Homo sapiens: one gene and its partner. The protein of the gene in region 2 purifies or fractionates together with the protein of the main gene of each other region. This does not show direct contact. Each region holds a gene or a part of one and is shown on either strand. Other genes may lie near its edges.

Evidence for each region.
Region 1: the proteins of YAP1 (region 2) and PATJ purify together in Homo sapiens (affinity purification with mass spectrometry; 7 studies listed by BioGRID and IntAct, with this or other methods). This does not show direct contact.

The regions. Positions count from the first base shown.
Region 1 is NC_000001.11:61,740,679-61,744,427, reverse strand, and holds the start of PATJ (inaD-like protein), read right to left. Parts: upstream 1,949-3,749; 5' UTR 1,873-1,948; exon of another isoform or gene 1,644-1,872; intron 1-1,643.
Region 2 is NC_000011.10:102,225,396-102,229,144, forward strand, and holds part of YAP1 (transcriptional coactivator YAP1), read left to right. Parts: intron 1-2,073; coding exon 2,074-2,186; intron 2,187-3,749. UniProt on the Homo sapiens protein: Transcriptional regulator with dual roles as a coactivator and corepressor. Critical downstream regulatory target in the Hippo signaling pathway, crucial for organ size control and tumor suppression by restricting proliferation and promoting apoptosis.

The DNA of each region.
Region 1 (3,749 bases), on a different chromosome or scaffold from region 2:
TCATGCTTGCAAGTCTGAGATAAAGATCGGTCTCAAGAAGGAACTAAAATAACCACCCAAGAAATTCTTTCTTTAGGAATGCAGTAATTCAGATAAGATAAGATAAGATAATCTTTTTTCCTTTTTTTTTTTTTTTTTTTTTTGAGACAGGGTTCTTGCTCTGTCACCCAGGCTGGAGTGTAGTGGTGCAAACACCACTCACCACAGCCTCCATCTCCTGGGCTCAAGCAATTCCCCTGCCTCAACCTCCCGACACACCTGACTATTTAAAAAGCTTTTTCTGTAAAGACAGCCATGTTGCTCAGGCTGGTCTCCAACTCTTGGCCTCAAGCGATCCTCCTGCCTAAGCCTCCTAAGTAGCTGAGATAACAGGCATGAGGCAGGTTGCCAGGCCTGATAAGATGCTCTCCATAACACCTGCCCAGTAATGGCATCTTCAACAATGGCCAACTCTGGCTTTCAGTCTGCAAAACCAATAAACTCTGTTTTCACGCAGCTTATCTGCACTTACTTTGCCAATAAAAGTTTCCTTTTACCCTCCCCTCTTCCATGCATATATGGCTTGCCAGGCCTGTGCACCTCGGGCTATAACGCTCATTTCTCATTCCCAAATAAATTCAACACATTTGGAGTGTTTTGTTGTTGTTGTTATTGTTAACATCTTAAAGGCCATTAGGGGCCCTAAAAACATCAAAGCTCACTTTAGCTAAAAGGCTCAATCTCACCTAACATTTTCTAATGCTGCAAACAGATTTAAGTTTTTAACCGCTGCCCCTGCCTCCACTCCTTTCAAATAGATGTGTGCAAATTAATTTGCAGCCAATAGGAATTTAGCCCAGAATGTGGTAGTATCATCCTCAGTGGAACCGACATTGTCCTTCTGGGTTTCCAAAGGCTTCTGCCTTCCTTTAAGAAACACTTGTCGCGCACCTACCAATAGCCAGACCCTAAATGCAGTCGAAAAATAAGGCCCTGAAAGGGGCACCCTCTAAATGGCAGAGGCAAGCCAGTAAACAACCAACTGGAATTCAAAGTGACAAGAGCCACTTGGAAATATGACAAAGTGCCAAGTGAAGGGGTGTTCACTTAATTCGGCCTGCGTGCGGGACGGCTGGGGCGCTTTGGAGAGTGGGAGTGATCTGAAAATGCTTTCCTGAGCTTGATTTAAAAGCAGGAGTCCAGGAATTTCCCCTAAGGCTGGAAGCACTTTCCGACAGAACCTCCCCATCTACGCAGCAAGGCTGGCAGAGCCCAGGGCCTGACCGCTGGCTTGGGAACCTCCGCTACGGGATGACCAGGCGCCGCGACGCGGCCGGGCCCAAGTCGCCCCCTCAGCCCGGCTCTGAGCACCCCCTCCTCTTTGTCCCCTCACCCCGTTCCCTCCTTCCACGGCCACCGATGGAGGGAAAGACTCCGCCCAGCTCTGGGAGCGAAACAGGGGCACCGATCTGGGCGCAAAATAGGATCCGTGCCACCCCCGAATACCAGTGGGCCGAGATTCGAGGCCCGAAAGGCCTGGGGAGGCGGGGCGGCGCCCCTCCCTGCCCGCGGCCTCGGCGAGCCCTGCGCGGCGGGGCGGGGACCACCGTGGGGTCACCCGGGCCCGACGCAGGAGGACGGCGCCCCCGCCCCGCCTCCCGGGTCAGCGCGGACGCACGCCGCGGGCGCCCCATCCTCGCCGCGGCCCCTCTGAGCGCCCGGCGGCGCCCTCCACCTCCGGCTCCCACCCACTCCAGGCGGGCGGGCGGGGAGAGCGCGGGGGCAGGGCAGGCAGGCCCGGGAAGCCCCGAGGGAGCTGCCCCCGGCCGGCCTCCAGGCGCGGGGACACCCAGGGGCGAGCGCGCACTGCACAGCCGGGACCTCACGCTTTACCTGGTGCGCTGGAGGAGCAGGTGGGAGCCCGGGTCGGGCGGGCTCGGTGTCGGCCCTGCCTCACCTGGGCGGAAGTGAGAGGCCCAGGGTGACCGCGCCTCACCTGGCAGGCCCTCCCCTCGCCCCGACTCTCCCCGCCCGGGGCGGGGCACCGGGGTGGCGCAGGGGGCGGGGGAGGGAGCCCGGGGCCGCGGGAGGCGGGCTCCAAGGAGGGAGGACGGTTGCCCTGGCTGTTTACGTGCAGGTGAATTCCTACCGGGCGCGGGATGGCCAAGGGCCTGGGAAAAGTGGGCTGTGGGGGCGGGGTGGCGGATCAGACCGCGCGTGGTGGGGACAGCCGCCACTGACGGGGAGGGAGATCCGGACAGACCGGTGTGGTTGGAGGCCTGCGTGTAGAGCGAGACCCAAGATCAAGGAAATTGAGGAGGATATCGATGAAAGCGTTGGGTCAATCCGCTTAACACTTTGTCTTTTTGCCCCTTTCCTTTCCTGTTCTCTCATCCCTCCTTTGTTTTCTCTATTCGCTGACGCAAAATAAAATATTCTAAAACGTGTAAATGTGGGAGTCATTATTTTCTTCTCATTTAGTGGAAGAAAGAAATCCAGCAGTATTTGCCTGCTGTATGCTAGGTGCTAGCTTATGCAATGTCTCATTTACTCTCTGAAGAAACTAATGAGGAAACCGTGCACCCTGTAGGTTGACTGGCCCAAAGTTTGGAACACAGGCAAGGCATTTTGACTCTAACTACAGTGATGATTTCACTATACGTTAATTTTCTTTTATTTGTGATGTCACACCTTCGAGAAAAATATGTCCCGATAGCCTTCTTCCACTCCCTTTAATAACTTTAGGCTTTTGATGATAGGGGTTTTACTTTGCCTGATACAGTCCACACATTAACGATAAAGAGAATCAATCTTCAGGTATCTTATTCATAGAGTACATACAGTAATTGTTAAACACTGTGATTGATTGTGGGAAGATGTGTAAAATGGTATCCCTGTCCCCAGGAAGATGAGGAATAGATACAAAACAACTACAACATAAAGACTTTCAGGCGGGGCGCGGTGGCTCACGCTTGTAATCCCAGTACTTTGGAAGGCCGAGGCGGGTGGATCACCCGAGGTCAGGAGTTCGAGACCAGCCTGACCAATATGATGAAACCCCGTCTCTACTACAAATACAAAAATTAGCCGGGTGTGGTGGATGCGTAGTCCCCTCTACGCAGGAGGCTGAGGCAGGAGAATCACTTGAACCCAGGAGGCAGAGGTTGCAGTGAGCCAAGATCCTGCCACTGCACTCCAGCCTGGGTGACAGAGAGAGACCCCGCCTCAAAAACAACAACAACAACAACAACAACAATTAGCCCGGAGTGGTGCCGTGAGCTTGTAGTCCCAGCTACTCTGTGGGGCTGAAGTCGGAGGATCACTTGAGCCCAGGGGTTCAAGACCAGCCTGGGCGACAGAGCAAGACTCCATCTCAAATAAATAAATAAATAAATAAAATTAAGATCATGCACTTGGTGCTTTGTAGTTTGCTTCCTTGTTTTAAAAGAAATGTAACACTTGTTAGTCATGGTAAGAAGACACACAATATCAGCATGGTTTCTGCTTTTTAGGAACTAACAAACTACTGAGGGAAATAACAGGCAAATTGCCAGATGGAAGCCAGACCTCAGAAAATGAAGAGATCTATTATGTTTTTTGAAAGCATGGGTTAGAACTTAAACAGGTCTTAACCAGAGTCTGAGATTAATTTAGGTAAAATGGAGAAGGAAAGGCTTTCCAAGTCGGGGGCAAAATAAAGTTGGAGATTGAGTGGGAAAAGGGAGAGGATTGAAAAACTACCTATCAGGTACTATACTTATTGCCTGGGT
Region 2 (3,749 bases):
AATCGCTTGAACCCGGGAGGCAGAGGTTGCGGTGAGCCGAGATCATGCCGTTGCACTCCAGCCTGGGCAACAAGAGTGAAACTTGGTCTCAAAAAACAAAAAGACAAACAAAAAAACCTCTTGATGGTTTTTCCCTTGTTTACTATTTGATTTATGTATATTCCTTAAGCTCTAAATACTTTTTGCCCCAACTTGCCTTGGCATTGACTCTTAGTAGTAATGCTGAGTTCCCTTAGTTCCCTTTTACTTTTACCCTCAAAGCTCACTCAGATGTCCCCCTCCATGAAACTTTTACCCTTTACTTCTAAGCTCCCTGTTTGTTCTGAAAGCACTGTGCTTACATCTGAGTTCATATAGCCCCTAAATATGATTCATTAGTATATTTGTTCATTTCCCTCCTTGAAGTTGTGAGCCTCTCACAAAACATTGTTTGTAGGTGGTGGTGATTGTTAACCTCTTTATCCTCAAAGCCTAGTCTAATGCCTGTCATGTAGTAGCAGATGCTCAGTGAATGTTTACTGAATGAGTGGGGCCTGTAGGAAGTGGGGTTCTGCAGGGAGCAGTTCCTCACCAGGAAAATGGCCCTGTAAACTCTGTCCTCAGGAATGCCCATGTGCTTCCCCTGTGGTTTGGAATGAACTCTGCGCAACTCTGTAAGTTCAGTTATTCAGTAATAGACTAAAATGTCTGATGTGTGTCCCATGCTTAGCAGCCGAATAGAGTGATGACTAGGACCAGGCTCTTGTCCCAGATCAGGGCAGGCAAAATACAAACAAACCACATCCTGAGGCCTTCTCATATATGGCTGCATTGTATACCAATGGTCTCAGAGGCAAATGTGTGTTTTCTTGGATCTGTGTGAGGCTTTTGAGCCTTGGCAAAATCTGGCAGAAGCATTAGAGTAAACCAGTGATGGCAGTATATAGAATGAGGGGAGAGAGAGAACAAGGCAAATGCATTGCATCATTTAGGGAAGGCAGTTGGGGTATTGACTGAGCTTTTAGCCTTGAGCAATTGTTAAACTTGTTTTTATTTTTTAACTTTTATGTAAGTTAAATAGCTGCTTATTAAATGTACAAGCCGTAGAGAAAGTTGAAGTTCACACTCACACAGACCATTGAAGAATAACAGCTGCCTTGATTTTATGCGTTTCTCTAAGATTTTGTAGAGTTAGTAGAACTCAGGGAATGCCAGCTGATGTCTAGATGCTACTAGCTTAGGAAAGTGTTCTATTTCTCAGGGTAATGGATATTTACCATACTTTTAATGTAAATCTGGGAAACCTTACTTAGTCTAAAGTGAAAATCTGTGTTGGGTCATTTTATTTTCAAGGGATGTGCCTTGCAGTTTTTTGTTTTGCTCTTTTCTTTAACTGGAGCTATATGATTTCCCGTTTCGTTTCGTACTGAAGTGTTTGAGGCTTTTTCCTCCCCCGCCCAAACACAGAAGCAAGGAGATCAAGCCACGAGTATTCTTATCTTATTGGCAGTGACTCACCTATTTTGGCTCAGTCCTAAAAGGAATTCTGGTGGTTTATTTGGGGTTGATTTTTCCTTGGCTTATGTTCTCTGCACAATAGCTAGGAATTTAACTTGAGTCTAGTGCAGACCTGTCTCCTCGCCCACCTGGAGTTTGTGTTGTGACGTCTCTGTGCCACCACCACCTGGAGAATTGAGGCCTTGGGACAAGTAAGTTGTATGGGTTCCTCCGCACCCCCAGATTCAAATGATATTACAGAGAGGAGAATACTGATGCAGAGAATTTTCTGTCAGCCAGGAAAACTAACTGGGGGTATCTTTTTTTGTCCCTTATTGTCACCAAGCACAGAACCTTAGGAGAAATCTTGGTTCCTTAGAGCTGCCAGCTTCAATTAGGATTAACTTGTCTATTTCACTTCATAGCACAAGCCCTGTCTATGGCCCTGAGGGAGGGTGCTTGTTTCAGACATTGCAGGACAGGAATTTTCACTAATCCTCTTTGAGAATTATGTTGCTGCTCAGCAGGTGTTTATTTTTACCTTGAATTGATTTTTAAAATTTTTTGTGTTGGTCTTTAACTGTCATGTTTATGTAGTGGCACCTATCACTCTCGAGATGAGAGTACAGACAGTGGACTAAGCATGAGCAGCTACAGTGTCCCTCGAACCCCAGATGACTTCCTGAACAGTGTGGATGAGATGGATACAGGTTGGTATTCTTTATTCCTCTTAGTAACCTGACTTAACAGTGGGATATGTTATCACCAGGTCTCATAAGGTATTGTAAGCAAAGATGATTCAGAAGAAAACCAATTAAAATCCTGTAAATTTGAATTAAATTGATCCTGCTTTGTCTCTATACGGTGATTTGTAACTTGTCTTTTCCTAGTTTAAAAAAATATATATCATGGATTGGCCGGGTGCAGTGGCTCATGCCTCTAATTCCAGCATTTTGGGAGGCCAAAGTGGGTGTATTGTTTGAGCCCAGGAGTTCAAGACCAGTCTGGGCAACATGGTGAAACCCCATCTCTATAAAAAAACATACAAAAATAAGTCAGCTGTCATGGTACATGCCTGTAGTCCCAGCTACTCAGGAGGCTGAGGTGGGAGGATGGATTGAGCCCCGGTGATCACACCACTGCACTCCAGTTTGGGTGACAGAATGAGACCTCTTCTCAAAAAAAAAAAAAAAAAATCATAAATTGGATATATTAGCTCTATTTGAATAAAACTCTGATAACATGACTTATGTTAGCATGTTGATCTTAATTGGCAGGACAAACTGACAACCCTGTTAGAACATCTCTCTCCTTATAGATTAGTGTCCTTAATTTTGAGAGATGTCTACATGTAATTCAGTGTTTGTCTTCATCTTTTCTCTAAGAGTTTTTGGTCCACCTTAAGTGTTATGGGGCTCAGGAAACCAGGTGGGAAAGACTAGGAGGTGGGGCTCACTTACTTTGTTAGAATAGTTGCAGAAGGCCAGGTGCGGTGGCTTAAACCTGTAATCCCAGCACTTTGGGAGGCCGAGGTAGCCAGATCACGTGAGGTCATAAGTTCAAGACCAGCCTGGCCAACATGGTGAAACCCTGTCTCTACTAAAAATATAAAAATTAGCCACATGTGGTGGTATGCACCTGTAATCCCAGCTACTCGGGAGACTGAGGCAGGAGAATCATTTGAACCCGGGAGGCGGAGGTTGCAGTGAGCCAAGATCACACCACTGCACTCCAGCCTGGGTGACAGAGCAAGACTCCGTCTCAAAAAAAAAAAAAAAAAAAAAAAAAAAGAATAGTTGCAGGGGTCTTGCAGGAGCTAAGAAATACCTGCCTCACAGGGGTAATTACGGAAGCATTTCTCCTGTGGCTTACCTGGCAACCATTGCCCTAGAGTTGACAACTGCCAGAGTGCATGAATTGGCAGGGAAATGAAGCTGTTCTTTAGCTACCAACTCTTTCACTAACTGCTTCTATTCTGAAAGTGTTTAGCAAGGCTTTTGTGCCTGTATTCATCCAGCTCCTGGCTTTGATGCTTTCTAGAATCCACACTACCCCTCCTCTCTGATTATCTAGATGTTAAATCATCCTTAGGAGCCACTTCAAACCCATTTCACACACAACACCTTTACTTACTCCTCTAATCTGTATTGCTCTCTTCTCCAGACCCCTGTAGCACTTAATGGTTTATGTTAGTTTTTCTGAAAGTATGTTCTATTGAAGCTCTGAGGAGTGTTAATGTTGTCATATGCAAAAAAGGCTCTGTGGCCAAGTAA